2 linked regions of the Homo sapiens genome follow. The protein of the gene in region 1 purifies or fractionates together with the protein of each later gene. This does not show direct contact. Each region holds a gene or a part of one and is shown on either strand. Other genes may lie near its edges. The genes, in order: PPP1R12A and MPRIP.

Region 1 (11,761 bases):
TTTTTTTCTTATGCAATTAGAATCTGTTTGTTTAAAAATATATCCAAGCGTTTAATTTTCAATCTTCAATGTCTTCCATTAAAACTAATTAGGACTAATTCTAAAAGTCAAAACTCAATTCTCTTTAGCAGAATAAACAATCTGTGGGTTAAGAATCATAATTTGTTCTGAAACAACTGATGATTCTGGGGAGACATTTATTAGGTTTTGTCACTGGAGAAATTTTCAAAAGCACTGAATCTCTATGCTAGAGATAGAAAAGATTCTAGAAGTTAAAAATAATATAAATCAAACACCTCATTTAACAGAAGAGTTTCTGACTCAAAGATAATTCTAACCTTAAGAATCAAGGCAGAGTAAGGAGTAAGAAACCAAGAACTTCTGATCCTTCTTCCTTTCAATAACCCCTCCCAACCCCACCACCAAAAAAAGCAAAGCCCTCAAACTTATTTAAGTTTGATTAAATGATGGATACTAATTTCTGTTGGCTCTGTGGTCTTACTGAGAAGCACTACAACAACCTAAAACTGACTTAAGTTTATAGGAAAAAGGGGAAGATAATTAAAATATAATATGACCTATACTGGTACTCAAATCACAAAATACTAACCACTTGCAGTGGCATTATAAAAGTACCACTAAATTTCACCATAGAAATAGAAACAAAACCTAAATATAGGCAAAAACTAAAGATGCAATGATAGAAAAAAAAGTTAACACTAACTTATTACTTTTCATATATTCAAACACAAATATTACTGTGAGGCCATTACTACTACAGGCCAGGCACTTCAGTAGGCAACAGAGAAAAAGAACTCTGTATGTAAGTACTACGTGACAGAAATAAAACAAAGTTAATCTGGTCAGTATTTTAGTAAAAAAAAAAATTAGTTACATAGTTCATTTAATTTTGCAAGAATAAAATATAAAAATAAAGCTCACATTTGGTTTCCTAAGGTTTTATTTTTTTTCAAGAGGAAAAAAAAAGCTAGGGACTATGCATAATATAGCAGAAAGAACTGAACTACTTTTCCTGCAATCTTGGGGCTAGCCTCAGCCCTCACACCAATAAAGCATACAAAAGTAAAATAGTCACATATTATCTCTGGGTCTCAGTTTCCTTCGGTAAAGCAAGGAAATCCCAAAAGATAGTTAGTAAGCTCCTTTGTACATCTATGATTCCATGCCAGTAGGCAGCAACAGAAAGAAGTGAGCAATCTTTTAAAAATATTTAAGCACACAAAATAAATTCAGACTCTTTGAAAAAATCTGAATAAGTGCTTTCTATGTATCAGAGATAAAATTAAATGAATGTATTCAACATACTCAAAATTATTTGGCTTACACTTATGCACAGAAGTCTTTCCTTACCAAGAGAAGAAATTCTCCAAATCAACAGGAACAAAACAGTTCAACATCCTTCAAATTTCTTAATAATGGGAGGAAACAATGAGAAGAATGATAAAACCTGTTTTTGTCATGTTGCATCTAATTTTCCCTAAGTGTGTGGTGTTTTCAGTTCTTCATCAAAAAATTTTTTTTGAAATAAACCACCTTAGAAACTAAAATGTTTAAGAAAACAACTGTCTTGCTCACTGACTTTAAACAAAAAAACATTAATTCTGTCAGAGGTGAGTCGCAAAGCCTAAATATAAATAATTGCTAGTTGTATAAATTTACATAGTTCTGAGCTGACAGGGTATTTCATTTATTAGTCTACTGGAGAGATGGCCATCAACCTCACAAGATCTTTTTTAAAACAAAAAACAACTTTCATCACTGGGCAAGATATATCAGCAGTACTGTTATGACCTTTACACACCTGCGTCTCTCCCTGACCTCTGTTGTGGAGGAGACAGTGCCAGCAGTAGTTGTAGTCAGGGTTGTGGTAGAAGCTGCAGCATTTACAACAGTTGGAGCAACAGGAATGGTCACTGCCGTAGGAACACTGTCCTTTTCTTTCTCAGTACTATCCTCAGCCCACAAACGATTTGAGGTACTATAGCATCATAAGCAGCAACACAAAAAAGAGAAAAGGAAAACAGCTAAACAATGAAAGCACTTTCTAGCAGCTGAAAACACATGACTACAGGGATGGATTTTTTTAAAACGCAAGGTGAGACATCCTTAAATTATGAACCAAAAAGCTCACCCAGAGTTGTCAAAGAGAGAAATTTACATTTTAAGCAGTCTAATTCAAGGAAAGTTCATAGTTCAGGAACTTAAAATTTCCCCCAGACATGCATAATTGCCTCATTTTGGAACCAATTTTTGTCTGCAAATAAATTTAACAAGATAAATGAAAAAATCCAGAGCCCCACAATCTTCTAAACAAAAACGCATGCACATACATAAGCACACAGTAGACCTGAGCACAAAATGTATCTGTGACTTACCTGCTTTGTGTGCCTGCTGAGGAAGAACCCGTTGTAATCTTTGTAGTAGTGCTTGTGCTGGAAAGCAGGCTTTTCTGAAGCCCAGCTGCAGAGGTAACTGTTGGTGTTGATGTGGTGCTTGGAACACTAGAACTAATCAAATCATCTTGTCTTCTACCAAAGGAGCAACTAAACAAAAGAGTCATATCTATATAGGATGTGTTTGTATGTGTATTCTATAGTTAATGTCTATACATTATATAAATTACAAGGCTAGAAAAAAAATTTAAAAACTGTGTTCCTAAATACACCACCAGCTCCAGCACCAAGAGTTGCATCTACAACTTGCTAGAGTTTAGAAGATTTCACTTAATTCGGTAGTGTATCATTTTAGTGCCTCCTCCCAACTTTCTCAACAAGACAAAGATGATCTGATATTTCATATTTTTGAAACTATTCCACACCATATGGTCATGCCAGGCTGAGCCTGAAAAACACACTTTGGTTTTGTATTACCCAGGGAAAACAAGACGTTGACATTTTTTTGAAGGAAATTATTTCAGCAATGGGTCAGATACCTCGGAAGTAACCAATGCCTACATGATACTTGTTCACATCTTATTCTTTTTGGTTGCTTTTAGTAAAGAAATTGTTTATAGGGCTTTTTTTTCCTCTTCAATATGATACTACCAACATTCCAACTGAAGGCATTTCCATAGCTCTGAGTTCTAGGGCAAGCCAAATCTTTCCAGATCAACAATGACAACTAGATCCATTAAGACACTGGCCTGTTTAAGTTGTTCTAGTCAAGGAGTTCCTTCTAAAGGAGTTCCTTTTAAATATGTAACAATCCAAAAAACATTTCATAATATTTGAAGCTTAATTATATAATAGGCATAACAAATTATCACCTATCTTTAAATATATATCCTGTGTTTAGAGTAAGTTTTAAACAACAAAAACTCGTATTTAATAAAAACACATATTTGTTTAAAATGATGTTAAACTGAGGGCTCCAAACAAATTGCCTCATATTTTTATAAATGAATACATAAAAACCGCTTAAGAATAGTATTATTACCTTTTATGATACGTTGATCCTTCATTAACTGAGCTATTTTTTTTAAGATCATCTTCCCATTTTCTCCTTGTATATGAACTACTTGTTCGCAAACTTGAAGAATCTCTGTTAAAAGAACACCCTTCAGATTCTGGTACATAATTTTAAAATAGGATTAAGAAAGCGGTACACTAGTAAATATTAGTATAAGCTGAAACTAGTAAAAACCTTTGGGAGGACACTTAGGAATACTAATCAAGAAGATAAAGTAATTTCAGTACTAAGATTATATACCCTAAGGTATAATTTTTCCCCTAAGTATGGGGGAAAATTCAGATATTTATAGAAATATGCTTTTTGATCACAAAATATAAAGTAGGGGAGATGCTTACTTTAACCGCAGAAGATCTACTTTATAGTATGTTATGTGCCGACAAAAAAAATGCTTATTAAAAATATATATTAACATAGAAGACTGCTTATGAGATCTTAGGGGAAAAAAATAAAAAAATTAGATATTATAACATGATTAAAAGTATATTAAAAAGTTATTGGCCGGGTGCAGTGGTTCACACCTGTAACCCAGCACTTTGAGAGGCCGAGACAGGTGGATCACAAGGTCAAGAGTTCAAGACCAGCCTGGCCAAGATGGTGAAACCCTGTCTCTACTAAAAATAAAAAAATTAGCTGAGCAGGGTGGCAGGTGCCTGTAATCCCAGCCACTTGAGAGGCTGAGGCAGAGAACTACTTGAACCTGAGAGGTGGAGGTTGCAGTGAGCCGAGATTGCGCCACTGCACTCCAGCGTGGGTGACAGAGCGAGACTCTGTCTCAAAAAAAATAAAAATAAAAATAAAAATAATTAAATTAAAAAAATAAAATTCTATAAGCTGAAAAACAGGAAGAAACTAAAATATTTAAACAATATTTAAACAAAAATATTTAAAACAAACTAAAATGATTAAGTAAGGGCTTTCCTTCTTCTTTCCCCTTTCCTAAATGTTCCAAATATTTAGAGAACTCATACTAGTTCATGACCTTATCTCCTCCCACTTTCCCCTTACTCTGTTCCAGCCACATCTTCTTTGCTATTATTTCATGAACATACCAAGCCTGCACCTCCTCAGGACTATGTACCTGGTATTTTCTCCTTCAGGAATATCCTCCATCTCTTCCCACAATACATATCCGCACATAATTACAATGCTCATGTATTAACTCTAATGCTAGATAATAAAGATTTTATAGTGAATGCATAAAGCAAATCAAAATAAACTCACCTGTTTTCTTTCTCTTCAATGTCAGATGTACTGGCTAGTCGTCTTGGTATTGTAGGTGCAACATATGCAAGCCTAGTTCCTTTACTATCTTTCTCCTACACAACAGGGAAAAAAATAAGTAAAAATTAATTTGGGTACTGACTATAGGCAATGCTAAAAGTATTAAGAAAAGGTTATTCAATAATTATAATTACATAGCTATCATAGTTTACAGTATTTCAACAATTCCTAGCTGAACTCTAAAATTAATGTCAATCAATAATCAGCCTGTTCAAATTAGTTTTCTTTCTCTTTTAGCCTGGAATCAGATAATATTTTACTAAGAAAGGAAAAAAATTTCTCCAGATTTTAATGACTTTTTCTAAAACTTCTCTAACAGATTAATACTGTGTCATAAGCTGAAATATCTTTATTTCTTCCAGAGAAATAAACTTTCAAATATTGTTCACTGAGAGGTCTCAAGCATTTATATTATATAAGCTATTTAGAACCTTGATAATCAATGCTCTCAAATACATCAAAATAGTCAAAACAAATATTATTTAAATTATATTTATCCAAATATGGCTAAGAGTGTGTAGTGACAATGACACTCTGATACATTCCTAGTAAGCTGGCATAAAATACCTGGAAACCAACTGCACAGTAAACTGATAAAAAAGCAAAAATATTAGAATTACTTGATGAGAAATTTCATCTGAATTTCTGATATAAGGAAACATTTCTAAGTATAGAAAGAAAACTGTATGGGCAAAAAAAATAGTTCAAGCACTGAATATGCTGTAGAAATAAATACTAGTATTGAATAAACTGTGGTACATCCTATATAATGCAGTATTAATACCACCTCTCAAAATAGTTATTAAATTTACTCATTAAGACAAAGTTGCTTGTAATATGGTAGATGAAAAATCTGGTATTTTTTTTCAGATACTGAATAAATGTAACTTATGAGTATACTAACATTCTAGAATAAATGTGTTCCTATGTTTTTTAAACTTCAGAAAGTTTCTTGAATCATAATAAACAAAATAAGCCTGCTCCTTAATACAGTTCTATTATAAATTCTCAAGTAAGGTAATAGATTCCTTTAACGGAGTATAGTCCCATAATTTATGTTTTAGGCAAATACATCTGATCTTTCCAGTATTTATAATTCTGTATAAATTACATTTGTCTTATGTAATTCATTAAGGTTAATTAACTTGATACCTAGATCTAAAGATAACTAGCAGAAAATCTACCAGATTTGATGTTCCTGGAAAAGAAATCATAACAGTTTTCATAGAAACCAGACTGTGAAATAGATTACCTTTTCTTTATTATCCAAAGAGGAGGAAAGTCTGGGACTTGAAGCTGAACGTGTAACACCTGCAGTATCTTTTTCTTTCTGACCCTCTTTAGATGCTGTGATTTCAGCAAGTGCACCATAGCTGCCCGTCTTTCTAAGTCCTAACCTCCAAGTTGCAGGAGACTCATCTTTTCTCTCTTCTTCTTTGGGAGAAATTTTTGTAGCTGTGGTTGGAAACTGTGTTTATTTTATTTTTTAGGAAAAGAAAAAAGAATTTGTAAAGCTGATCAGTCCTTAAATTGGAAACAATAAGTTTACAGATAATATATTTAAAATTATGGTTTACAGTTTCAGGATAAAACACTTTTACTACATAGGTTAATGTCTTAGTAAAAAATGTAAAGATCTAAAAATTTTAAAGAAATAGACTACCTTCCTAGGGGTTAGACTTAAGAAAACACACTACACACTTTATATCACACAGAAAAATTATGATGCAAATACAGAAAACAGAAATGAGCACACCATAAGGACTTAAAACCATGCATCTTTGGAACCAATTTATATTAAACTTGTTATGTTGTAACCTAATATAAATTCTTGCACATAGAAATGCCTCACCATAGATTTTTCACCCTTACTGGGCACAAGAACAATGCCAGTTTTGCGCAAGCCCTGCCTCCATGATGCAGGATCTACTGATTCCACCACAGGCATGATAGGAGCAATGAAATCATACTAAAGCCAATTAAAATAAGACAGGTAAAGAGACAAAGATTGAAAGCATGAAAACAGAAAAGGGAAGTTATGAACAAAAAATATTTTCTTCATTTGAAAATAATTTTATAATTAACCCCAATAATTGGGTAATGATCCAATCTTTAAAAGTCACTGGGAACAAGTTCTAATTTTAGCATGAGATAATCTGAAAAAAATCTAATAAACTTCTAAAGCAATTAAAAGGCATACAGAGTAGATAATATAGCATGTGACTGAACAAACTACTGCACATGAATTTTGTTTTTAATCCATGTATATACTCTGGTTAAAAAATTTTGTGTCCAATATAATCAACAAAAACTAGTAACTGATATTTTTCCAATTATAATACTTTTTTTTTTAACATCACAGCCTTAAATTTACTGATTTCCCCACCAAACATTAACTATTTCAACTATAATAAAAACTAATTTTATGTACAAATATTTATGCTATTTTAAGGGCTTTCCAACAACCCTAAAAATGCAACCTCTGTTATCTTTAGATCACTTCATCAACTTCACTTCTAGAAATTCTATACTCAACCACAGTTAACTATATAGATTGGTGAATACAGCAACTAACTAGTTGCCACAAGCATAGGGTATTAATAATTTTTTAAAAATCATTTCTTTCATATCTATTGCCAACATTTGCTATAATTAGCAGGTTAACAGGGCTTGTTAAAGCCCCCATGATGATGCTTGAGGGCCACTTCATGGACAAAACTGTTATAAAGATATACCTCTGGTACTTCCAGTAATGAATTGCTATCAATAGTGTCTAAGCATTCCTCAGTTCCTAAAATGTGCACCAAAGTGCTCCAGAGTGTCACAACAAAATCACGGGGGCTCTGTAGAATATTTTAAAGTTTTGAGAGAAGCACAGTGACATCTCATAGACACTGCACAAACTGCCATTTTGATCACATTTCCATCAAACTACTTAATGAGACAAACAGGCAATTCCTTTTGCCAGTGGCACTGTGAAAAAATCCTACCAAACACTAGGGGCTCCAATGACCAAGAAAGTTTGCGAACTCTAATATTCTGTGCAATATGATAGGTACTGAGACAGCTGCTTATTGATTGGTGAGTTTACAGGGCTACACTGTAAATGCTAGGCTTTGTGGAACACAGATAATATTAATACACAAATGATTGAGTGTGGCTGTAACCAATAAAACTTTAGGGACAATGACTTTTTTTTATTTTTTTTCTCCAACCAGTTTGCTATACAAAAACAGGTAATGGGCTAGGTTTGGCCCACCAGCCATAGTTTGCCAACACCCACATTAGGTCTCCCACCTCCTCAAAAAACAGAAACAAAAAAACAAACAAAAAACCTGGAAACAAACGTTTTTTCCCCCATTATAAAACAGCCAGAGTCAGTCAGTCAGATAACATTTATTGTTATAAATGAAGCTAACATTTATTGTTATAAATGAAGCTAACATTTAACAAATATTTACTAGTGTGTGACCCTCAGCTAAGTGCTTCACATGGGTTATCCTGTTTCAACCTTATAATTACCCAATGAAATACTACTATTACTGTTATTTTAGAGTTGAGAAAAACGAGGCAGTACTATCTATCAATTTTGAAATGGGCATTTGTTACACTGTAATGGCTGATATACCTCCACTCTGCCCAACATGAACTTGGATTTAAGTACTGCTTTATATGTCTAAAAGCACCTTTTAATTTTACTTGATATATAAATAAACCCTTCCTGAAATACTTAACTATACCTCCTCCTCCATTAAACTCTCTTCTTTGGCTTTTTTTACTGGACACTATCTTCACCTTCTTTTTCTTTTTACTCTGACCATTCCTTTTCTTGACTGACTCTGTGTGTGCGTGTGTGTGTGTGTGTGTGTGTGTGTGTGTAACGTTCCTTATACAGGCTGTGTGTGTTTGTGTGTGTGTGTGTGTACAACTTTCCTTGTGCTAGCCCTTCCAGAGCCTGCTCTTGGATCTCTCATATTCTCTTTCTACTTTCTTCTCCTGGGGGGTTAGGAGGAGGGTCTTTACTTCCTCAGGCTAAATATTAATTGTAGTCAGCTTATTCTCAAATGTGTTATTCTCCAGTCCAGTCTCCTAAATTTCCAGTCCTAATTTTACCTGTCTATTCTAGGTAAAATTCTACCACACTATTCTAGAGTGGACAATCTAGAACTATAACTGAAAACTTGAAACTCAGTATGTCTAAAATAAAACACCTTTACTTCCAAACCATCTCTTCTTCAGTTCCCTAATTCTGTTAATGGCACTAAGTATATCTCTTCAATCTCCTATGTTTCAAACTTCACAATTATGTTAGACCTTCTCTGTCATTTTCCTCCATCCATAAATTAGAGGTCAAGTCTCTAAATCTCCTCTCCTTTATAAGCCCAGAGTCACTTCTCTAGTTCATATTCTTATCATTGTGGGCAACTTCAATGACTTTCTAATAAACCTTTTCTCAATAAGCCTCTCATCTTCAAATCTGTACACTGCTGTCAGAATAATATTCTATAAAGAATAATCCTCTCATGGCATTGTTCAAACATCTTCCACGACTACTACTTATCAAATAAATTATAAAAGTGTTATCCTACAGTTGAAGACATCCTGCAATATAGCTCTACTTTTCCTGTTTACTTTGTATATATGCACCCTATAAATCAATCAAATGGAACAATTCATTTTTCCTGCGAAAGTATTCCATATTATCCCCACTTGCTCATATTGTTTTTCTTCTCTCCCTTTCAACAAGGTTTACAAGCCCTTCTTCTCTCAGGTGGAGTACTACCTACTTTAAGATTTATCTAAAATGTCCTGATTCTACTACCTTAAGTCAAATATAATTTCTTCTCCTTTTAAATCATGCTACATCTGTACGTTTCGATTGGACTACTTTATATACCCACAGCACATAGCAGTCTTTTGTTAAATTATTAGCTATTACATTGAATTCAATTAACCAGAACACTTAATTCCATAAAAATTCTGAATTTTTACCATCAAGTAAAGAAAATGCCATTTACATTTTATTGGAATGTACACCCATATAGAAGAATAGATAATCTGCTTTAGAGATCCCAACAAAATTTATTTTGACCAGAGAGGCTTATATAAACTTGTTAGTTAACAATTTTAAGCACAAAATCAAACTGATGGTTTTATAGATAACATCTCCACAAATCATCAGCTTGATATTGCTACAGAAACAGTTCTTTAATTTCAGCGGAAGGGTTAAGGAATTAAAGTAAACACATCTATCTTTCACCATAGTTACCCCAAGTTATTAAAAGAAAATAAGCATGTAAAACTGTTTCGTGTGCTTCCATTTTTGTGATCTGTCTTGCCATGAACACAAGTGCACACATACATAGTTTATGTACTGGGGTAGGAAGCTGGAGAACTTGATAACTTTATCTAAATATTAGAAGTGGAGTCATGACTGGGAACCTAAAAACAGATAATTGCAAAACCTTTTAAGATGCAATTAGAAATTAACAACCTGTTTAAGGAAATTTAATGTTAGGTCACTAAAGTTACAGATAAACTTGAAAAAATTTTAAAAAATACTAATATGCTAAATTAGATACAGGAGTATAAGAATCACTGAAAATAACAGGTTTTAAAAGTCATACAGTATTGATAAGAAGACTCCCTCTTCGGCTGGGCATGGTGGCTCACGCCTGTAATCCCAGCACCTTGGAAGGCTGAGGCGGGTGGATCACGAGGTCAGGAGATCGAGACCATCCTGGCTAACACGGTGAAACCCCGTCTCTACTAAAAATACAAAAAATTAGCCAGGTGTGGTGGTGGATGCCTGTAGTCCCGGCTACTTGGGAGGCTGAGGCAGGAGAATGGCGTGAACTTGGGAGGCGGAGCTTGCAGTGAGCCGAGATCGTGCTACTGCACTCCAGCCTGGGCAACAGAGCAAGACTCCATCTCAAAAAAAAAAAAAAAAAAAAAAAAGGACTCCCCCTCTTCATTAAAAAAAAAATTTCAGGCCAGGCACGGTGGCTCATGCCTGTAATCCTAGCACTTTGCAAGGCCGAGACGGGTGGATCACCTGAGGTCAGGAGTTTGAGACCAACCCAGCCAACATGATGAAACCCCGTCTCTACTAAAAATACAAAAATTAGCTGGGTGTGGTGGCAGGTGTCTGTAATTCAGCTACTCGGGAGGCTGAGGCAGGAGAATCACTTGAATCTGGGAGGTGGAGGTTGCAGTGAGCCGAGATTGCGCCACTGCACCCCAGCCTGGGTGACAAGAGTGAAACTCTGTCTCAAAAAAAAAAAAAAAAAAAAAAAAAATTCAAAATTTTTACACATGATCGTTTTGAATAAAATTTGGTTACAAAACTTTAAGAACAAAGAAACAATATAATCTTCAAAGTAAGTTATGGTGCTTGAAACTGAGAATAAAATAGTTTCTAAATATGCAAATTTAGAAGCAGATGTTATTATATTAGCTTAATTACAGAATCAAGAGTGATTTTGAATAAGAACTTTTACAGCAAAGAGATTACTGGCCCACTATACTAACAGAGGTTATAAAGTATTTCTTTTCAGTTAGGGCATTAGGTATAAATTGAGAACTACATTGCCATAAATGTTGGCTATATGTGAGAAAAAGAAAAAGAAAATTGAACACAGGAAGTTTACCGTAATCATTTGACTGTAGTAGGAAAGGGATTACTTAGCCAAATACCCAAAAGATAGAGAGCCAGTGCTGGGTGCAGTGGCTCACGCCTGTAACCCCAGTACTTTGGGTGGGCGGATCACAAGGTCAGGAGTTCGAGAATACCCTAACATGGTGAAAACCCATCTCTACTAAAAATATAATTAGTCAGGTGTGGTGGAGGTGCCTGTGATCCCTGTTACTCAGTAGGCTGAGACAGGAGAATCGCTTAAACCCGGGAGGCAGATGTTGCAATGAGCCAAGATCGTGCCATTGCACTCCAGCCTGGGTGACAGAGCAAGACTGCCTCAAAAAGAAAAAA
Region 2 (12,649 bases), on another chromosome or scaffold:
GGTTTCAATCTTCTCACCGGTAAGAGGAAGTGGTTACATTAGCTGATCTCCAAGTCCCTTCCAGGTCTGATGCCATAATACAGTCCCTGCAAGAGGTTTCTGTGCCTCTCTAGGGGAAAAACAAACAAACAAAACCCACAGCTGAGGAAATAAACCTCAAACCAAAAGGCTCAGAGAAATGTCTGCTCCTGGGAAGATGACATCTCCAGAGCAAAAGCCGGCCAAGGCTGCCCACCACCTCCCTGGGCCCAGTATCCTCTCCTCTTAAGGAGGGAGTGGCCTCGATGGTGGCTGATGTATCTTCCAGCTTTGACGGTCTAAAATAAGCTCCAGGCTGGGAGGGGCAGCAGGAAGCAGGGGCTTGGGGGAGACTGATGGGAACCGATTGGTTGAGGTTTTCTAATGGAGCCATAAGGATGAGAGTGAGAGGGAGGGCCGGATGCAGAGAGCAGCAGAGAAGGCTGTTGGCAACAGCCCTGAGTCTCCCTCCTCTCTTTTCAAGAGCAGTTTCTTCCTGAAAGATCCCAGGAGGTAGAATGCTGGGCTAACCTCTCCCAGCACAAATAACCCCACTCATTATTTCAGAAACTACCATTCCAGTTGTGCCCTGAAGGTCTCAGGCCTGTTTCAAAACCCACAATTCAACTTTGAATACAGTGAGAGTACAGTATTTTAAGTTTGCCTCTCCCCGTGAATCCAATTAATAATCAACAGATTAAAAAAAATCTTAGCAGATTGGACTCAAACATGCAGATTCCATCCTAGTTTATCTAAGCTTAAGAATTCGAAAACAGCCCCTATGAGGTGTAAATTTACCAATTTTGACAGTTGCTTAGAATAACCAGGAAACTTACAAACCTCTCTCAGAACAACCCTTGCCCAGAAACTTCTTAAAGTGGCAGGTTTTTTTGGTTTGTTAAATTGTAAGAGAAAAAAGTTTCATAAAATATCATTTCTTGCTTTTCACAAATGCTCAGTGAAGGAGGTAAGCCAGGGACCAGGATTCCCAATTTACAGATAAGGAAATTAAAAGATACAGAAGTAAAGGGATTTGTTCAAGGTCACACAGCTGGAAGTGACAGCCAAGACCTGAAGCAAAGTCTCCTAACAACTCCTCATCGCATAAACTGTTTCATCCAAAAAAGCATCCAGATGAGAAGAAGGAATCAAGTTCTCCTTTACACTCCAAAACACCCTCCGAGGTAAATGAGTTCTATCCGTCCCAAGCTGACCGTCCTTAAAACCCTTGGTATCTTAACCATCTATGACTTTGCAGCCTTGAGTGTTTCGTTAAGCTTTTGGGGTTTAGATGAAAGGAATCTTTTCCTGGCAGTTGGAAACCTGACCTCAGAGAAAGGCCCCGTGCCCCAGGCCGTAACCCCTGCCCCACCACCCTACTCCAGTCGGCCATGTAAACAAGTCAAACCCTGGGTGCACTGAAGTGGCATTAAAAACAACCAGGCCCGTTCACTCGTTTTCAGTCTAAGGGGTTCTTCTGCGACAGGAGTGGCTACAACTAGGTCACACTGGACTGGAATGTGAAGGGACTTCCCCTGGCTTCATTCAGGAGGCTGAGAGAAAGCTCTGAAGAGGATGGAGATGATGGCCGTGGGGAGGGTACCGAGGCACATCCCAAGGAGGTGCACACAAGGCTCGGAATCCTGGAACACTAGGAGTTCAAACAGCAATCACTGCAGGGGTTCCCAAGGGCCATGGGGGCTGCAGCCAAGCCTCTTGGAGCCTTTCATCAATACAAATTCCCCATCTCCCCAGTCACTCCAGGGCGGGGGCCCCAGAACTCTGTGTTTAATGGCTATGACTCTAATGCACGTTTGGGAGTCATAACTAGTTCAAAGCCCTGTTTGACAGTTAAGGCTGGGAGACAGAAATCAACTTTCCCGAGGACCCACAGGTCTCCTCACCCCTCGGCCAGTGACCAGGGAACTGGTCCCAGCTCCCCGCTAAACTACGGCCTGCCAAACTAAGTTCAAGAACAAGACCCTCCTCGCCAGATTTGGACACCCCTTCACCTCTCTCCAGTGCTTGACAGTGACGATGATTCAGAATCGGGGCAGGCTGCGTCCCACTAGACGGAAGCCCACAGTCCTCCCCAACAATCCGACCCCTGGGCCACTCTGGCTGGACAAATCCAAGTCCAGTCCCAAGCCAGAATCTCAGGGGGGTCCCGTCAAGCGGCATGCAATCCCTAAGCGCTTTGTTCCTACTAAGCGAAACCAGGCACTTTTGAGTCACCCAAAAAGCATGAATCACACAGCCGGGCAATGGGAACGGGAAAGGATGTTATTTTTCGGCATACTCGAGGATTTTCCCTTTGTCCCAGCTCTGTCAATGCACTTCCCGTCCCCGTCCCCATGCCCCAGGACTCGCGCATTTCCCTGCTCCATTTTTATTTTCCCTGCAGCCCTTGGCGGCGCCCCGGCCGCCGACCCGCGGCTCCCAGAACGGAGGTGTCCGGGCCGGCCCCAGTCGCTCACCTGCGTCAGGTCCTCGTCGTTGAGCAGATGCGACTCGCGGGGCTTGAAGCAGTTCTGACACTTGCTCTTGTTGAAGATGTTGGCCTGGAATTTCCTGCACGGGTTCTCCTTGGCTGCCGACATGGTCGGCGCGGCGGCGACGGCGGCGGCGGCGGCGGCGCAGGCCTGGCCGGCCTGGCGCTCCCGGCGGGCTAGGGGCTCAGCGCGGCCGCGCCGCATCCCTCGCCGGCCCCGCCGCAGGCCCGGCCCGGCCTCCTTCCCGGCGGGCGGTTCGCTGCACGCGCCGAGGCTCCTGAGCCGCCCGGGCCTCACAGCGCGCGCGACGCCCAGCTCCCGCCCGCACCGCCGCCGCCCGGCCGCCGCGGGCCCATGGACGCGGCCTCGGGCCCGCTGCTTCCCGCTGCGGCCCGCCTCTCAGGCTCCGGTCGCCGCCGTCCCGGCTCGTCCGCGCCGCCGCAGCTGCCCTCGGCGCCCCGCGGCCGCTGCAAATGGGACCGGAGCGCCTCACGCACTACGGGGGCGGGCGGGCGGGCGGGCGGGCGGGCGGCCGGGCGCGGGGAGGTGCCGGGGCGTACGGGGCGGGGCCGCGCCCGACGCGATCGGCAGCCCCACCGGCCAATGGGGTTGGCGCGCTCTCGCTAACAAAGGAACCTCTGGGCCAATGGCAGTCGGGGGCGGGACCGAGGGCCGCCGAGCGCAAGGTAAGTTGTGCAGGCCGGGAAGGTGGGGGCGCCGGCATGGGACGTTCAGGTTTGGTGGACTGGCGCCGAGGCCGGCCGGGCTGACAGCTGCAGGGCCCGGGCGGGGGATGCGGGGGAAGGCGGAGCCGACCTCAGGCTGCCTCTCTGCAACCCCCTCGCTCCCAGGCTCGCCTTCCCGCGCCCACGCTGTACACCCAACGGAGGCATCTTCCCCAAGCCCAGCTCGGAGAGGATTAGTTTAGCACCTACTGTGTACCAGGCCCCCTCGTAGGAGTCAGTTAGCGTCGGGAAGGGCTGGATACTCCAAGGGCTCGCTCATTAAAGGTTCGCAACCTCTCCTTTCTCATCCCCATTTTACATAGGAGGAGACTGAGGAGCAGAGAAGTAACAGCGGGTAGTATTTCAAGGGATGACTAAGAGAAGATGTCAGCGGACTTGAAGAGCTGTCAGCTCCATTAGGGGAGATGAGCGAAGGCTGACTCTCTGCCAGGTGCTGAGCTAGGCATTCTTTCCCCCATGATGTGCTTGAGGAAATGAAGGGTCAGACACCTGGAGTAATTTGTGTAGGATCACTCTGCTAGGAAGGGGCCGAGCTGTCACTCCCGTCCTCCATTGTCCAGCCTCCTGGCCAAAAGACAACCTGGAAAAGGCTGTCAAAGGCTCAGGCAGAAGGTTGCAGGAGCCCAGAGAGGGGAGAAATGCGCTCTTTAGAAAAATTCGGGTGGCTTCAAGGAGGAGGGGAAGTTTAAGTGGACAGTGAGAGGGTTGAGTGTGGCTGGAAGTGGAGATAGGGGAAGAAGGAGCAAGAGGGATTGGAAGAGGGCTCTATCACCCAGGCCTTGTATTCCAAGCCCAGGCGTGCACATGTCATCCCACTGGCAGCTGGGAGTCATGGTGAGTCTTTAAACAGGGGGGTGAGCTAACCCAGCCTTCACGGAGGAGGTGACATTGGAGCATGTGGTAGTGGCAGCCACAGCAGCTGTCGCTCAGGGAATGGAGGAGGTTTTAGGAGGAGAAGTAGCAAATGCTTCCAGAGCTGTGTACTTTTCCACGGATCATCTGGTAAATATCCCAGGGAGGTGGATTTCAACTTAGTGTAAGAAAATGCTTTTCCTCAAAAGGGAGCTGTGGGAAGGCAGATCAAAGTCCTTTGGCAGCCTAAGGGGGAAAGCCCAGCTCCACCAGGCAGGAGCTCTGTGGCCTCGGGCAAGTCCCTTAACCTGCCTGGTGCCTCAGTGACCTCATGTACAAAATTGGCATTAATTAATTAATGTGAACATTAAATGATATAATGCTTGTTAAGTAGCATAATGTTAATTGGTGAATCTAGGCAAAAGGTGTTTATTGTACTATTCTTTTTTTTTTTTTTTTTTTTTTTTTTTTTTGAGACGGAGTCTCGCTCTGTCGCCCAGGCTGGAGTGCAGTGGCGGGATCTCGGCTCACTGCAAGCTCCGCCTCCCGGGTTCACACCATTCTCCTGCCTCAGCCTCCCGAGTAGCTGGGACTACAGGCGCCCGCCACTACGCCCGGCTAATTTTTTGTATTTTTAGTAGAGACGGGGTTTCACCGTTTTAGCCGGGATGGTCTCGATCTCCTGACCTCGTGATCCGCCCGCCTCGGCCTCCCAAAGTGCTGGGATTACAGGCGTGAGCCACCGCGCCCGGCCTTATTGTACTATTCTTGCAACTTTTCTGTTGCTTTAAATTTTTGCAAAATAAAAAAGGGACGGAAGACTGACAATTCTGCCCTGCAGAGAATACTCAGAAACTGATAGAAGAGGTGGCCACTGGGGAGGGGAGCTGGGTGGTTGAGAGGTGACCTACTTTTAATTTTCATTGCAATCCCTTTTGTTTCTGCTGAATTTAGTATTGTCTGCATGTACAACTTGTTTAAAAATATATATATACATACATATATATATATATATATATATATATTTTCTTTCTTGATGTCCTGCCCATTCCTCAAGGCCACCTCCCTTAAAGTGCTCAGCATGTTCTGCTCAGGTCAGTAGGCACATCCAGCACCTGCACTGGACTGGAGGGGTCCACAGTAGGGGCGCAAAGAAGAGTTTCATTCAGCAACTCAGAGGCAGCCTGCCCGGCAGGAGCCCACACTCAAGCAAGTGGAGACAAACAGAAACAGGAGACAGAGAAGTTCAATCCGGGGTGTTGTGGGGGCCCACACAGGGGCACCCAGCCCCGTAGGCAGCTTCAGGGAAGGCTCCTGGAGGAGGCAATGCCTAGGCCGAGTCTGGAGCTGAGTAAGACCCAGCCAGAGAAGGTGAAGGGAAAGACACGTCAAACTGGGGCACCAATTATAGAGTCTCAGGCCTTGAAACCAAAGGGTGTGTTCATGAACAGAAGCAGCTTTCTATCACTGGGTAGTTCAGAGAGGCAGGAGTGACCAGCATTGAGAGGCACTGGGAGGAGTAGTGGATGGTGCAAGCCTAGCCTCTTCAGGGAGACAGGTATGGTTTTTGTTGTTAATACTATTTCATCTCCATTTTATAGAAGACACACACGAGGCTCAGGACATATCAGGAACTTGCCTGTGGTCACAATTATAGATCCTACAAGTGAAGATTTGAGCCCACACAGGCCAGCACCGGAGCTGCCTGGGCCAGGGGCAGTCATCAATTTTGAATTTTTTTCGGCTGAGCACTTAGGTAAGGGCTGCTGATCTGGAGAATGAATCAGGGGCAAGGACTGAGAGAGCTGCAGAGGAGAGAGGGTAGCAGCCTGACTAGGATAGGGTCAGTGGGAGGCAAGGGAATGAATTTGGAAAATGTTTAGGAGGTAGAATCAATTAGTTGCGCTCCTCTCCAAAACCCTCACGGTAGAGTGGGGTCTTGGTTGCTACTCCATTTCCCCTGTCTAGTTCAGTGCCTGGCATAGAGCAGGGGCTCAAAAACACCCCATGGGGGTGCAGTGGCTCACACCTGTAGTCCCAGCACTTTGGGAGGCCGAGGCGGGCGGATCATGAGATCAGGAGTTCGAGACCATCCTGGCTAACACAGTGAAACCCTGTCTCTACTAAATATACAAAAAATTAGCCAGGCTTGGTGGCAGGCGCCTGTAGTCCCAGCTACTAGGGAGGCTGAGGCAGGATAATGGCATGAACCCGGGAGGCGGAGCTTGCAGTGAGCCGAGATCGTGCCACTGCACTCCAGCCTGGGCGACAGAGTGAGACTCTGTCTCAAAAAACAAAACAAACAAGAAAAACACCCCATGGGTGAATGGATGAAAAGTCATCGTTCCACCTTGTATTGTAATATCTCCTCCACCAGATTATGAAATCCATACCGACACAGTCTGTGTCTCATAACCTTGGCTTCCCTTTCCAGGGGCCTAGAACAGCACTTTGCATGAAGTTCAATACTCAGTGTAAACATGTAAAGATTCACTGGGCTGTATGCTTTTTTCACTGCATTGTGTACACCTCAATGTATATTGTTTATCTCAAAAAAGCAAATAAGCAAGCAAGCAAGAAAAGGCCGCTCAGGTGAGCCCCAAATGCAGGTAAGTCTTGATTTGTGGCTCTGACTGCCATCCTGGGAAGTTTTCCCTGTGTCCTGTTAGGGAGCAGAATTTACACACAGATACCCAGAGGTAACCACTATTTTGATCTCCATCACCATAGATGAGTGGAATCCGCTGCGAGCTATGCCTGGCTCTTCTCATTCAACAGTATGCCTGTGAAATTCAATCCACACGGCTACTGTATATATCAGTACTTCATTCTTTTTCATTGCTGCCTGGTAGTCCCTTGTGTGGAAATACTACAATTTATCTGTCCATGTTCCCGTGGATAGACATTCAGGATGTTTCCAGTTTGGGGCCATTATGAATAATGCTACGAGTATCTTCGTGCTTGTCTTTGGTGGACATAAGCACTTCTTTCTTTTTTTTTTTTTTTTTTGTTTGAGATGGAGTCTCGCTCTTTCGCCCAGGCTGGAGTGCAGTGGCACGATCTTGGCTCACTGCAAGCTCCGCCTCCTGGGTTCAGGCCATTCTCCTGCCTCAGCCTTCTGAGTAGCTGGGACTACAGGCACTCGCCATCACGCCCGGCTAATTTTTTTTGTATTTTTTTAGTAGAGACGGGGTTTCACTGTGTGAGGATGGTCTCGATCTCCTGACCTCGTGATCTGCCTGCCTCGGCCTCCCAAAGTGCTGGGATTACAGGCATGAGCCACCGCGCCCGGCCAAGCACTTATTTCTATTGGGAATACCCAAGACTAGGGATGGCTAAGTTTTGGGAAGTGAATGTTTAACCTGATGGGAAACTGCCAAGCAGTTCTCCACACCTGAGAGCTGGGCTCTCATCTCGCCCTTTTTCTGCTAATCATTGATAATAAAATTCATCTGGAGGAATGTGTGAATGCTACAGGTTTCCAGGGCCTCCCATGGAATTGTGTATCTGTTGGAGTGCACGAATCTATTTTGTCATTGCTATTGAGACAGGGTCTTACTCTGTCGCCCAGGAGTGCAGTGGTGTGATCTGGGCTCACTGCAGCTTTGACCTCCCAGGCCCAAGTGATCCTCCTACCTCAGCTTCCCAAGTAGCTGGGACTACAGGAGTGTGCCACCTTGCTTGCTAATTTTCCTGTAGAGACAGGGTCTCACTATGTTGCCCAGGCTGGTCTCGAACTCCTGGGCTCAAGAGATCCTCCTGCTTCAGCCTTCCAAAGTGCTGGGATTACAGATATGAGTCACTGTGCCCAGCCGAAGAATCTGTTTTTAAAATATTTCTGCTAGGCAAGTTTTGGAAATAGTGGGTGGAGCTGTGGTTCTCAAATCCTGGAGGATTAAAAAAATTCCTACTCTGGAGGCTGGGCGCGGTGGCTCAGGCCTGTAATCCCAGCACTTTGGGAGGCCGAGGCAGGTGGATCACTTGAGGCCAGGAGTTCGAGACCAGCTTGGCCAACATGGCAAAACTCATCTCTACTAAAAATACAAAAATTAGCTAGGCATCATGGTGCAGGCCAGTAATCCCAGCTACTAGGGTGGCTTGAACCTGGGAGACAGAGGTTGCAGTAAGCCGAGATTGTGCCACAGTGCTACTACAGCCTGAGTGACAGAGCTAGACTCTGTCTCAGAAAAAAAAAAAAAAAAGGATTCCTATTCTGGTCCATTTCCAGATATTCTGATTTAATTGGTGTCTGTAAAGGCTACTTGGAGGATTCTCATAACCACACAGGAGTTGGAACCACTGGATAAAGGAGGGTGGAAAGGCGAAGGCTCTGGTGTGGTGTGTCTCAGCCAGCTATTGCTGCAGAACCACCCCACCCCACAAAGCAGAGTGGCTTGAGCACTATTTTCTTGTCTCTCTGGTTCTGAGAGTGGACTGGGCTCTGCCCGGCAGTCCTGCTGGTCTTGCTTGCTGTAAGTGTGGCTGCATGGTAGCTGGGTGAGGTCACTGGAGGCTGGACTGAGACAGGGCTGGCTGGACCTTCGTCCTTTCCTTGCAGCCTCAGAGCCTCTCCTTTCCCCATGGCTTCCCCTTCTGCTCTGCGTGCAGCACCTCAGTGTTCCCCAGAGCAAAGAAGCAGAAGTACCCATCCTCCTTAATGCCAGGCCTGGCACTCGACCGCATGCCATTAGTCAGCACACGGCACAGGATGTCCCAGACTCGAGGTGGGGGGCCCACAGAGGCGTCAGCCCCAGGAGACGTGGTTCACTGGGGCCACCATTGAGACTAGCTACCATAAATAGTAGCCATGTCATACGAGTATTGTGAGGACTAAAGAAATTTATATATGTGACGTGCTTAGAACAGTCCCTGAAACACGGTGTGAGCTCAAGAACTATCAGCATGTATTAGTATGCCTATAACCCCTATGCCAGGGGTTGGCAGATTTTTTCTGTAAAGGGCCAGATACTAAATATTTTAGCCTTGTCAGGCCATATGGTCTCTGTCGAAACTACTCAGCTTTGATATTGTCAAGTGCAAGCATCCATAGACATTACATAATGAAGGGGCGCAGCTGTGTTACAATCAAACTTTATTTAAGTAGTAAGTGGCGGGCTGGATTAGGCTGTTTCTTGGGTCCCCTCTTTTCCTGTTGCTCGGGCCTCCCTCTCCTGGACAGTCTCTCTGAAATGTTGGTCTCCCTGTCCCAGACAGCACCTGTCAGCATTCAAGAATTCACAACCATCGAGCACTGACAGTGTGCCAGGCTGTGTGCCGTGTGCTGGGCATTCGTCACGTCGAATCTCACTAAGTCCAGCTGTCATCATTTGAAATTAGCTCTGGCAGCGCTGGTGGTGTCTGATGGGAGTCCTTAGTGCCCACCCCCCATCATCCATCAATCCCCTGAAAGCCACCCCAAATAAATATATACTTTGTTAATGTAGCTTCAAGAAAAATCTCCTAACCCCTTTCCAGTTGCCACCCCAGAATTAGTATTATCCTCAGCTTACAGATGAGAAAACTGAGGCACGGACAAGGCAAGTATTCAAGGTCATACAACAGTAAATGGTAAGCCTGGGATTCAGACATGGGCAGTATCTTCGTGAGCACTGCTCTACACAACCTCCAGCCCAGGGAGCTGCACGTGGCCCTGACAGCATCGGGGGCTGGGCCCCACCCTTCCCTGGAAGCAAGACCACAAGATCTCGGAGGCCCTTTCCAGCTGTGACGCCATGAGGCTTTTCTACAGCAGGCACCAAATGACAATAGTCTCCAGATGTGCACTAGGAGAGAATGTAGTGCACTTGACACAGAAAGTCCACCAGAAGGGCAAGTTGGACATGTTATTTAAATTTTAAGTCTGTGACCACTTTGACATAGTGATTCCACTTCTAGAAAGATAGGTTGTAAAATTGCTCACACAGGTACACAGATATTATGTACAAGGATGTTCATTCCATCATTGTTCTTAATAGCAAAAATTGGAGATACTCCAATTGTCTATCATTAGAGGATCGGATGAATAAATTATGGCTCTTTGATACAGGGGAGTACCATGGGGCTAGTTGTTAAAGACTGAGATAGTGTTGACGTGGCCATCCATCTCAAAATATGGTGAAGTGAAAAGCTGTTGGAGAAATGGTGTGCATTGTAGTAGCTCATCCTTGTTTTAAGAGTGTGTGTGTTAGCAATATTCACAGTTAGTGTTTACATGGAGAAGGTCAGGGGCACATACACCTAACCGTTCATTGCAGTTAACCCTGGGAGGTGAAAGAATGGGGACTCACACTTAAGCTAGAGATTTATATCATGTTTAAAATTTTTAATAAAAGCTTTTGTTTTCTTACTAATATAGAGAAAATCATATAATGAAGGTGGATGTATCCATTACCCAGCTTCCATATCAACTCAGGACAAGTCTTGTTTCAACCATACTCCCTCATCTACTGTGTGTGTCTGTAAAAGATAAGAACTATTTTCAAAAAGTAGCCACAATACCATTATCATACCTAAAAAAACAATAATTCTTTAATATCATTAAATGCCCAGTGAGTGATTTCCAGTTATCTCCTAAAAACAGAAATTATTTTTGTAATAAGAAAAAAAAGGCTGAAAAAGATAAAATTGTCAATCCAAAGAGCAGATTAGTACAAGTTTCCTGGAGCTTTGTTTAGTGATACTTATCAAGAGCCTTAACAATGTGCTTACCTTTTGCCCTAGTAATCCCAACCTGTGAATTTATTCTAAGAAGAAAAAAGAACATTGAAGAGGTATACAAACATTGTTCACTAGAGTGTGCAGTGTCTGTTACAGAGAAGTTGTTTGAAAACTATTTGTTGAGGCCAGATGTGGTGGCTTACATCTGTAATACTAGTACTTTGGGAGACTGAGGCAGGAGGATTGCTTGAGGCCAGGAGTTCCAGACCAGCCTGAGCAACATAGCAATACCCCATCTCTACAAAAACATTTTTTAAAAATTAGCCAGGCATGGTGGCTCATGCCCATAATTCTAACTACTTGGGAGGCCAAGACAGGAGGGTTGCTTGAACCTAGGATTTCAAGGCTATAGTGAGCTGTGATCACATCACTAAAACTCCAGCCTGGATGACAGAGCAAGACCCTATCTCAAAAGAAAAAAAAACAAACCACAATTTTTTTTGAATTTGAAGTTGAGCTCCTGCTGTGGTTTGCAGCTTTGTTTGTAAAAGAAAAGCTGAAAGTCATGGAAGTGTGTGACATTAGGGTACTGGCTAAATAAATGAGGGCAGATCCATAAAATGAAACATTGTTCTGTCATGTAAAATCAGATTCTAATAATACACATAGATAACCACCGCTTCCAAGAGGCAGAACTTCATCCTCATCCTCTAATGGACTATGGAAAGAAGAAAAACAGTCCTTTTACAGTGAAGAAACTCAGCAGATGCTCCCTCAACATCGCTGGTGGTAAGTCTTGTGGCTACTGGGTACCCCCTGATACAATGACAGGGGCACCTCACCTCTGTGATCTTTTACCCAAAAACTAATAACCTCAGTCTCATGAGAAAAACATCAGACAAACTCAGATGAGGGGCATTCTACAAAATACGTGAGCAGCACTCTTCGAATGTGTCAAGGTCGTGAAAAACAAGAAAAGACTCAGAACTGTTAGGGACCAGAGGAGCCTCAGGAGATGACGGAGACTGAATGCCATGTGGGATGCCGGATGAGATCATGGAACAGAAAAAGGGCATTAGTGGGAAACTGGCGAAATCCTAATAGAGTCTGTCGTCCAGCTAATAATGTTTTACTAATGTTAACTTTTTAGTTTTGACAAATGTAGCATGATTATGTAAGATGTTCACATTAGGGGAAGGTGGGGGAAGAGTATGGGAACTTTGTGGAACTTTGCTGTAAATCTAAAATCACTAAACAAAAATTATTCAAAAAATCAGGGTGTAGATATTTATTAGTATAGAAATGTATTCACAACATATTAAGGGGAAAGTATGTATGGCCTCACATAGTTTTTGCTGAATGAGACCGTATTTGTAAAAACTCTAATAACAAGGTGTATGTCTACATGAATGTGTATATATGCACATGTAGGCTGGGCACGGTGGCTCATGCCTGTAATCCCAGCACTTTGGGAGGCCAGGGTGGGCGGATCACCTGAGGTTAGGAGTTCGAGACCAGCCTGGCCAACATGGTGAAACCCCATCTCTACTAAAGATACAAAAAAATTAGCCAGGCATGGCGGTGTGCGCCTATAATCCCAGCTACTCGGGGGGCTGAGGTAGGACAATCTCTTGAACCGGGGAGGTAGAGGTTGCAGTGAGCTGAGATGGCGCCACTGCACTCCAGCCTGGGTGACAGAGCAAGACTTCATCTTAAAAAATTATATATATATATATATATATATATATATATATGTATATATATATAATGTACATGTGCATACACACAGGGACACAGGGCTGCATATGTATGCGTATGTGCGTATCTAGCCATTCATGAACAATGTTTGTGTACTTTTTAAATTTTTTTTTTCTTAGGATAAAT

What was found.
Region 2: the proteins of PPP1R12A (region 1) and MPRIP purify together in Homo sapiens (co-immunoprecipitation; 3 studies listed by BioGRID and IntAct, with this or other methods). This does not show direct contact.

What each region holds. Positions count from the first base shown.
Region 1 is NC_000012.12:79,803,770-79,815,530, forward strand, and holds part of PPP1R12A (protein phosphatase 1 regulatory subunit 12A), read right to left. Parts: intron 6,242-11,761; coding exon 6,026-6,241; intron 4,809-6,025; coding exon 4,714-4,808; intron 3,562-4,713; coding exon 3,457-3,561; intron 2,565-3,456; coding exon 2,397-2,564; intron 2,000-2,396; coding exon 1,823-1,999; intron 1-1,822. UniProt on the Homo sapiens protein: Key regulator of protein phosphatase 1C (PPP1C). Mediates binding to myosin. As part of the PPP1C complex, involved in dephosphorylation of PLK1. Capable of inhibiting HIF1AN-dependent suppression of HIF1A activity.
Region 2 is NC_000017.11:17,032,818-17,045,466, reverse strand, and holds the start of MPRIP (myosin phosphatase Rho-interacting protein), read right to left. Parts: upstream 3,011-12,649; 5' UTR 2,715-3,010; coding exon of another isoform or gene 2,619-2,714; coding exon 2,496-2,618; intron 1-2,495. UniProt on the Homo sapiens protein: Targets myosin phosphatase to the actin cytoskeleton. Required for the regulation of the actin cytoskeleton by RhoA and ROCK1.